2 linked regions of the Homo sapiens genome follow. The protein of the gene in region 2 purifies or fractionates together with the protein of the main gene of each other region. This does not show direct contact. Each region holds a gene or a part of one and is shown on either strand. Other genes may lie near its edges.

The links. Proteins that work in one complex are often made in the same cells at the same time.
Region 1: the proteins of PDGFRA (region 2) and CBR4 purify together in Homo sapiens (affinity purification with mass spectrometry; one large-scale study listed by BioGRID and IntAct). This does not show direct contact.

What each region holds. Positions count from the first base shown.
Region 1 is NC_000004.12:169,007,456-169,011,606, forward strand, and holds the start of CBR4 (3-oxoacyl-[acyl-carrier-protein] reductase), read right to left. Parts: upstream 2,801-4,151; 5' UTR 2,635-2,800; coding exon 2,493-2,634; intron 302-2,492; coding exon 181-301; intron 1-180. UniProt on the Homo sapiens protein: Component of the heterotetramer complex KAR (3-ketoacyl-[acyl carrier protein] reductase or 3-ketoacyl-[ACP] reductase) that forms part of the mitochondrial fatty acid synthase (mtFAS).
Region 2 is NC_000004.12:54,274,293-54,277,792, reverse strand, and holds part of PDGFRA (platelet-derived growth factor receptor alpha isoform 1 precursor), read right to left. Parts: intron 3,263-3,500; coding exon 3,168-3,262; intron 2,953-3,167; coding exon 2,820-2,952; intron 406-2,819; coding exon 301-405; intron 1-300. UniProt on the Homo sapiens protein: Tyrosine-protein kinase that acts as a cell-surface receptor for PDGFA, PDGFB and PDGFC and plays an essential role in the regulation of embryonic development, cell proliferation, survival and chemotaxis.

The DNA of each region.
Region 1 (4,151 bases), about 110 Mb from region 2:
ATTTATTATATGTTGTATCTCAATATAAAGGAAAATAATTTATGGATTGACAAGTTTTAAAATAGTTTTTTCTCCCAGTTAGAAGCAAAATAAACATATTAACTTATACCAATCAAAGACATATTAGGAATAAAAGTTTTAAATATATATATAAGAAACTTATTTAAATCTGTGACCAACCTGTTAATACCAGCTGCATTTACCAAGAAATTTACTCGACCTAAATGTTTCTCCAGCTCTTCAAATGTATTTTGAACATCATGTTCTTTAGCAACATCACAGCTAAATGCCAAATGATCTCCTACACAACAAAGTTAAATAAGAATTACTTATAACTCAAATTTTAAATTTACTCAATACACATTTGTTAAGCATCTATCTAAGATGGCAGGCCTGTGCTAATCTAGAACCTAAAGATTAAAAAAGTAATGTCATGAGGCCTGGCTTTCATAGAGTTGGTCTAATGAAACTGGGATGCGGGAACAAAGAGGAAATAAAGTACTACTACAGAAAGTTAATTTTAAAATTTTCTTTTTAATCAACAAAGGGGGGAGGGCTTTTTCAAGTTATAAAGGCTCTGTAAGATTCATCTAATATTTATAGCTTTAACACTGAATTCATGCTACCCAATTCGACAGTCTTCTGGGTTTTATATTCCTTTTTTGAAATTTATGTCTAATTCTGTCAGGTTTTTGTTGAATTAGTTTCTTTGGCCCTGAACGGGAACTCTTGGGTTTCTTCTTTTTAAGTGCTACGGATGCACTATGGCACATATATTATAACGACTATTATTCAAACCTGACCATCAGGAGAGATGAGACAACACAGGAAGCTATAAAAATGCTAAAACTACAAACCACGGGGGGAAAAAAACACTTTTTACTAAAAGCAACTGTTACTTACCACTTTTAAAAAATGGTTAAATGCCAAAAAAAAACTACACTTCAAAGGAAAACAAAGCATTCCCTATGTAATCTACCATTTTAATACTCTAAAATGTAGGATTGTTTTTAAAAGCTAAAACAATTCTTTATTTTCTGTCTGACCTTGATAAATATGCTTACACCAACACTACCCCATCAAGCCTTTGGAAACAGTAAGCGACCCGGGGAATTATACTTTCTAGATGAAAACCAATCACTCATGGAACACGATTCAAAGGAATGCAGGGCCCAAAAGCATCCTGTGTCTCTCTTACTCTTGGTTTTCACCCGAAGACTTGTGTCCACAACCACCTTTGAAAGCCCAACTAATGGCTTCAATCCAGTCCAGCAAACACTGATGGCTTGGGGTGACACAGTAAGGGTCACCACTCTTCCCCTCCTTTGTTAGAATGGTAAGGAATATGAGCTTCAAGAAGCATTCACTGACACTCTCCCTGACCTATAACTTACAGAATCTTTTTTCTTTTAGAGAGCCCAATAGTCTCCCAACCAGCACTGAACAGGTGATACCAAACCGATCAATAATGTTAACTTAAAAATGAACAGCCACACCTGGCGTCTATAGTCCCAGGTCCTTGGGAGACTGAGGCGAGAAGATCTCTAGAGCCAGTAAATCAGGAGTTGGGGTCCAGCACGGGCAACATAATGGGAAGCCCTCTCAAAAAAAAAAAAAAAAAACCAGATACACAAAAACAGTAAGAGCCACAAGACGCACCCCTAGGCCTCTATTCTCCCCATGCCTCCCTGATAGTAAATGAAGTATAATTTTGTCCATTCTGGTGATTAAACAAATAGCATCTTCGGATCTAACGTCCTATTTCTCCCTAAACTCAATGAAGAGTTATATTCACAAAATGACTAATCCATTCATAATAAGCCGGAAATAAAAAACCCTGAAGTTTAAATGCAATAAAAAAGAATTTGGCAGAACAAAGTTCAATTGTCCATTTGCAAAACTCACCAAAACAATTTAATAACATTAAAGCAAACCAGGTATATCTCAAAACTGGCTGGTACTCAAAAGGGTTTCTCTATCAAACACTGCTTTGTGCATTCGCGCAGGGCCAAGGCACGGCCCTTGGGCAAAACTGAAGGGAGCCGTTGGTACCTGCACTCCCACCTTTCCTGCCTGAACTCCTTTCGACCCAGCCCTGTCTCCGGGGGCCGAGAACTCGCCCTTTTCCCTACATTAAAAGTAAACTGTTACGTGGCTCTCTCCCACAACAGGGAAGCTCCTCAGCGTTAGCACTAGCCGCAGGGCGGAGGGTGCGTATAGCGGGGCCTCAAAAGACTACGAGGTCTCAAAGAACACCCCAAGTGTTCAGCCCTCGGCGGCAAGCTGCGTGGCCGGCATTCTGCGAGGCATAGGGAGATCGCGGGTTTCTGCACGAGACGCATTCTACCCTTGGAACGGGAGAGCGCCTGCACGCGGCTACATCGAGTAACCCTAGAGCCCTAAAGGCCAGACCCGCTCTTTTTACAAAGGAGATTTTCTTTAGGCGCCTGGACCGCGGCCATACAACTGGACAACTCCAGTTTGGTACCTACCGCCGAGGTCACCGGCGGCGGCTTTGGCCCCTTCCAGGTTTCTGGCAATGACCGCCAGTCGGTAGCCTTTCCGGGCCATTAACTGGGCCACAGCTCTGCCAATGCCTCGGGAGCCTCCAAAAACAGCACACACTTTGTCCATCTCGGAGTCACAAACTCGGAGGAAAGAGGGTAGGGAGTGGGAGCCCCTCTCCAGGTTCCCTCAGGCTTTTAAACAACCGCGGTTCCAAAAAAAAAAAAAAGAAAAAAAAAGGCAAACCGCAAAAAAAAATAACGCCGCTCGACACCTCCTGCAGCCGCACAATAGTAATGCAAGACGCCGTGAAAAGGAGGAAGAGCTCGACGTCGCCGCGTCGACGTCATCACGCACGGACTCTTCCGCGCCACACCTAACAAATACGCCGACGAGAGCTCCCCGCCGGCGGAAGAATGGCCTGGAGAGGGCCTCGATGCTTGCTGGGACCTGTAGTCTTGACGCATGAGAGCAACTGGCGCAGGCGCGCTGCTCGGTGGGGAATGTACTTGTGGCACTGAGGGGGATCCTCTGTCCCCGCTGGGTCATATCAGTCGGGATTCGAGCCCCGGTGACCAATCGACCCGGTTTGTTCGGAACTGACAGGGTTGTCAAGACGCTGGGCTTTCCCTGGCAAACCAAGACGACCTGATCACGTAGTTAGAACCCAGAGAAAGCATTACTGGGCGTGAGCCGGTCGGGGCTCCGGTATTTGCCCTTCGCCCAGGTGTTGTTTTGGCTACAGACTTGATGTCCTACCTGTTGAAGAAGTCCCCAAGAATCGCACCCACACCAAAACCTACCCTACCTGTTCCTCCCCCAGGTTGCTGTAGAAATGGACCTCTACCCGCCCAGATGTTACCATTCATCGCGAAGGGTGTCGTGAAGATGAATGCCCTGTCGAACATCATCCAGCAGGAGGTCAAGGAATTTTAACTGAATGATTGAATAGTCTTGCAAGATCTATGAAACAAGCTTCGGCTGCTGTAGAGAAACAAAAATGGGTTCCTGCAATTCTAAATAAGATGTACTGGGTGCTCTGAGAGTTAATAAGCTAAAAAATTCAATGTTTGTTACAATTATAGTGTAAACAGAAAGCATTTCTGATACAATATTATTTTACTAGATTCAGAAAAGTATGAGCCATGGTCCCTACCACTAAAAAAACTACAACCCAGAACTACAGGACTAATACACATGAAACACTAGGAGGTATCCAAAATCATACTTAGTAAAATGCAAAATTATATTAACACAAGAGCTCCGAGAAAATGGAGATCAGTGAAGAATGAAGGGGTGCATGGAAAAGCTGGATTTGAGGGCTGGATGAGGTTTGAAAAAAGGAAAACAAGAGCAAAAAGTCTATAAATAAGCAAGTTGAGCATTAATTTAAATTTGTTATTCCTATTCCATTTAGATCCAAAAAAAGATTTGAAATGGTTTGCAAAAATACATGAGTATTTGAATTTAAAAGGCAAAGAGGACCACTGCCCCTTCTCCCACAAGGCCAGAACAATAAATTAGGTCAGTGGAAAAAATACGAATAAAGTCATGCTATAAGAATCTATTTAGTATTAAAGAAGAGATTCATAAACTTAGAGTTTCCTGCCAGCGAAAGCAACAAAGGAAATATAATTACAAGTGGT
Region 2 (3,500 bases):
ATTTACCAGAAGTCTAAAAGAAGCAGATAGCTACTTGGCCTCAGTGCTAATAACTAATTCCTGGTCTTTCTAGTAAAAAGAAGTCACTGGAAATAACAAGCTCTTAATTTTCCAACATACAGGCAGCAAGAGCAATCTAAATAAACCTAATCTAAATACACATAAAACCTGGAGTCAAAATAATCAGGACCTAGTCCTAAATGTCTTATTTACTAGCTGCATGATTTTGAGAAATTCCCTTAATATCCCCATGCTCAAAAAATCCCCGTGCTCAAAAAATCCCCAGGAAGGAGCACTTACGTTTTAGCATCTTCACTGCAACTTTCATGACAGGTTGGGACCGGCTTAATCCATAGGCTGTTCCTTCAACCACCTTCCCAAACGCTCCAGACCCCAAGACCCGACCTGTGGGCAGGCAGAATCATTAACACCCAAAAACTCCAGACGCCTCCTCAGCTTTCTGCACCGTAGCCAGCTCTCTGCGGGCGGACAGCTGGGCGAGTGTCTTTCCTGTTTGGAGTAATCATAATGACTCCTCCAAGTCATCGTGTCAAAAAAGGAATTGAGCCCACAGGGAAGGAAATTAGCATAATTGCTTTTGTCGAATAACACTTGCAAGGGAAAGAAAACACAGACGGGAGAAAGGAGGGTGCAGCCCTCCCTGGTGTGAGCGCGCTGTCTACCAGCTCCGTGCTGGGCCAGCCCCTGGGATCCTCTTGCCTTCGGGGCTCTCACCCACACCTCCTGGCTCTCTCCCCTTCTGTTTTCCATATGCAAACAGGGGCATCTTTTGTCTTAGTAAATTACTAGCCACTGGAAATACTTCAGTATTCAAAATATCACTGATTCTAAGGAGTGACTAAATAAAAACTTCAGGCTGGGCTCACTGCTCCCTATTTGTTAGGAAAGCCACTCTACCAAGAGCTAAACATGCCCGAGAGCACAGCAATTAGCTTCATGTTGGGAGGAGACATACGTAAAGACACTGAAGCTGTTGTCCCACCCTGAAAGAGCTCACCCTGAGAGAAACATTTCCCGGGGTGTCAGTCTCACCACGGATAGCCAAGCCAGGAAAAGACTTGGCTCATAAAAGACACTAACAGCCAACACTGCCTCTTACTGCACGTCTGTGTTACTGAAAATCGTACCTGGAAAGGTATTGCTTCACCAGCAATGCCTCTTGGTATAATGGGAATTATGCCCTTTTCCCCATATTTTACTACTTTTTAACTCCCTAAGCTCCTCATCCCTTGTTGGGAAATAGGCAGGAAAATAAAGAAAGCTTAGATATAAATATTTGAAATTGGGGGGCAGCTCTTATAACCGCCCCATGGATTCTCCTTGTCCGCTGCCTAGACAGAGCCGATTTACCAAGACAGGGGAATTGCAATAGAAAAAGGGTTTAATTCACACAGAGCCAGCTGTACGGGAGACCTATTCTACTATTACTACTATTACTCGAATCAGTGTCTCTGAAACTGGGGGAATTTCTACTATTCTGCTATTACTCAAATCAGTGTCTCTGAAACTGGGGGAATGGGGTTTTTAAGGATGATTTGGTGGGTAGGGGGTGAAAAGGGGAGTGCTGATTGGTTGGGTCAAAGATGAAATTATAGGGAGCTGATGCTGTCCTCTTGCACTGAGTCAGTTCCTAGGTAGGGGCCCCAAGATCAGATGAGCCAGTTTATTGACCTGGGTGGTGTCAGCTGGTGCATCGAAATACAGGGTCTCCAAAATATCTCAAGCACTGACCTCAGGTTTTACAACAGTGACCCCTAAACCATACTTTCTAATCTTGTAGCTAATTCGTTAGTCCCGCAAAGGCAGTCTAGTTCCCAGGGAAAAAGAGGGTTTGTTTTGGCAAAGGGCTATTATTGTCTTTTTTTCAAAGTCAAACTATAAACTAAGTTCCTCTCAAAGTTAGTTCGGCCTATGCCCAGGAAGGAACAAGGACAACTTGGAGGCTAAAGCAAAATGGAGTTGGTTAGGTCATATCTCATTCACTGTCATAATTTCCTCAGTTACAATTTTTGCAAAGGTGATTTCACTCTGGTGCCTTGCTTGATTTCAGTTTACCTAACTCTCTAAGAAGACTTAAACTCTTCTGTATTTTGCAATGAGACCGGTGGATAATTAAAACCTGCATTTGGCATTCTTTAACATATATACTGTTAGATCATTCATCATAACACAACCTCTACCTCTACTTTCATTTGCCTTTGTCTTGCTTTCATTCATTAGGAATGTGATTTAAAAAAGAAATACTCCCTTGGACTAAAGCTTCATATACTTGGTCTCAGCCCAGGATTGAAATACTTGAAATGCTTGTGATAAGTTGGCTTGCTTATTTTTACATATTTTGCCTCAAAATGTACCTATATTTTTATATTCCATATTCCAAATATGTAAAAAGGAGTATCTAATGCATCTTCAGAATGTACTGAATCAAAATACATTTTGTGGTTGTCCTCATTCATTTCTCATCTGCTCATTTTTAGTCACAGAAATTCATTTTCAATTTGTGTCATTTCTAAAGAAAAGCAATTTTGGTGGGTATCTTTGCCAGCCCTCTTCATATTCTCTTCTCCCTTTGTAAAATTTTCCTTAACTATAATTTGTTATGGAAAGAGATTTAAAAAAATCATTGCAATGATCCAATTAACTTACTGTCAAGACAGAAATGTATTTCTGAAAGCAAATTTCCATTGCCTAGTTCTTACTAAGCACAAGCTCAGATCTCTATTCTGCCAAGGCCTATAAATTGTAAAGTTGTGTGCAAGGGAAAAGGGAGTCTTGGGAGGTTACCCCATGGAACTTACCAAGCACTAGTCCATCTCTTGGAAACTCCCATCTTGAGTCATAAGGCAGCTGCATCGGGTCCACATAAATATATTCATGTCCATCTGGGCTGATTGATTCAATGACCCTCCAGCGAATTTCATACCTCGGTTTCTATAAATGACCAGGACAGGTAACTGGTGAATTACCAAAGTCCCAGTGCACCAGAGCTTCACTGAAGCAGCACAGTGACTGGACACAGTAGAGTCCAACAACGTTCACTCCACATGTAATTGCTGAGCTCCTTCTCTGTGCCAAGCACTGAACTAGGTTGCTATGCTTGTTCTCATTGGCTTCAAAGATCTTTAGTTTTATGAGAAAATATCTACCTGTTTCCAAATGACAACCAGGACAATAAGTGAGATGATCACAATCACCAACAGCACCAGGACTGCAGCAGCCACCGTGAGTTCAGAACGCAGGGCTACGTGACAAGAGAGAGAGGCACAATGAAAAGTTTCCTGGCAGACATGCACAGGGGCAGCAAGGTAGTGTGGCTGTGTCTGAGCCAGGAATCTCTCACTGCTGGTGGGGAAGTGTGAGGGCTGCCTGGTTCATTTTAGGGATAGGCAGTACCATCTCTCAAACCATCTACACCCAGGAAACTACATCAACTCTTTCCTTATACAAGAAGGGGACAAAATTCAATCAGGAGAACTCAG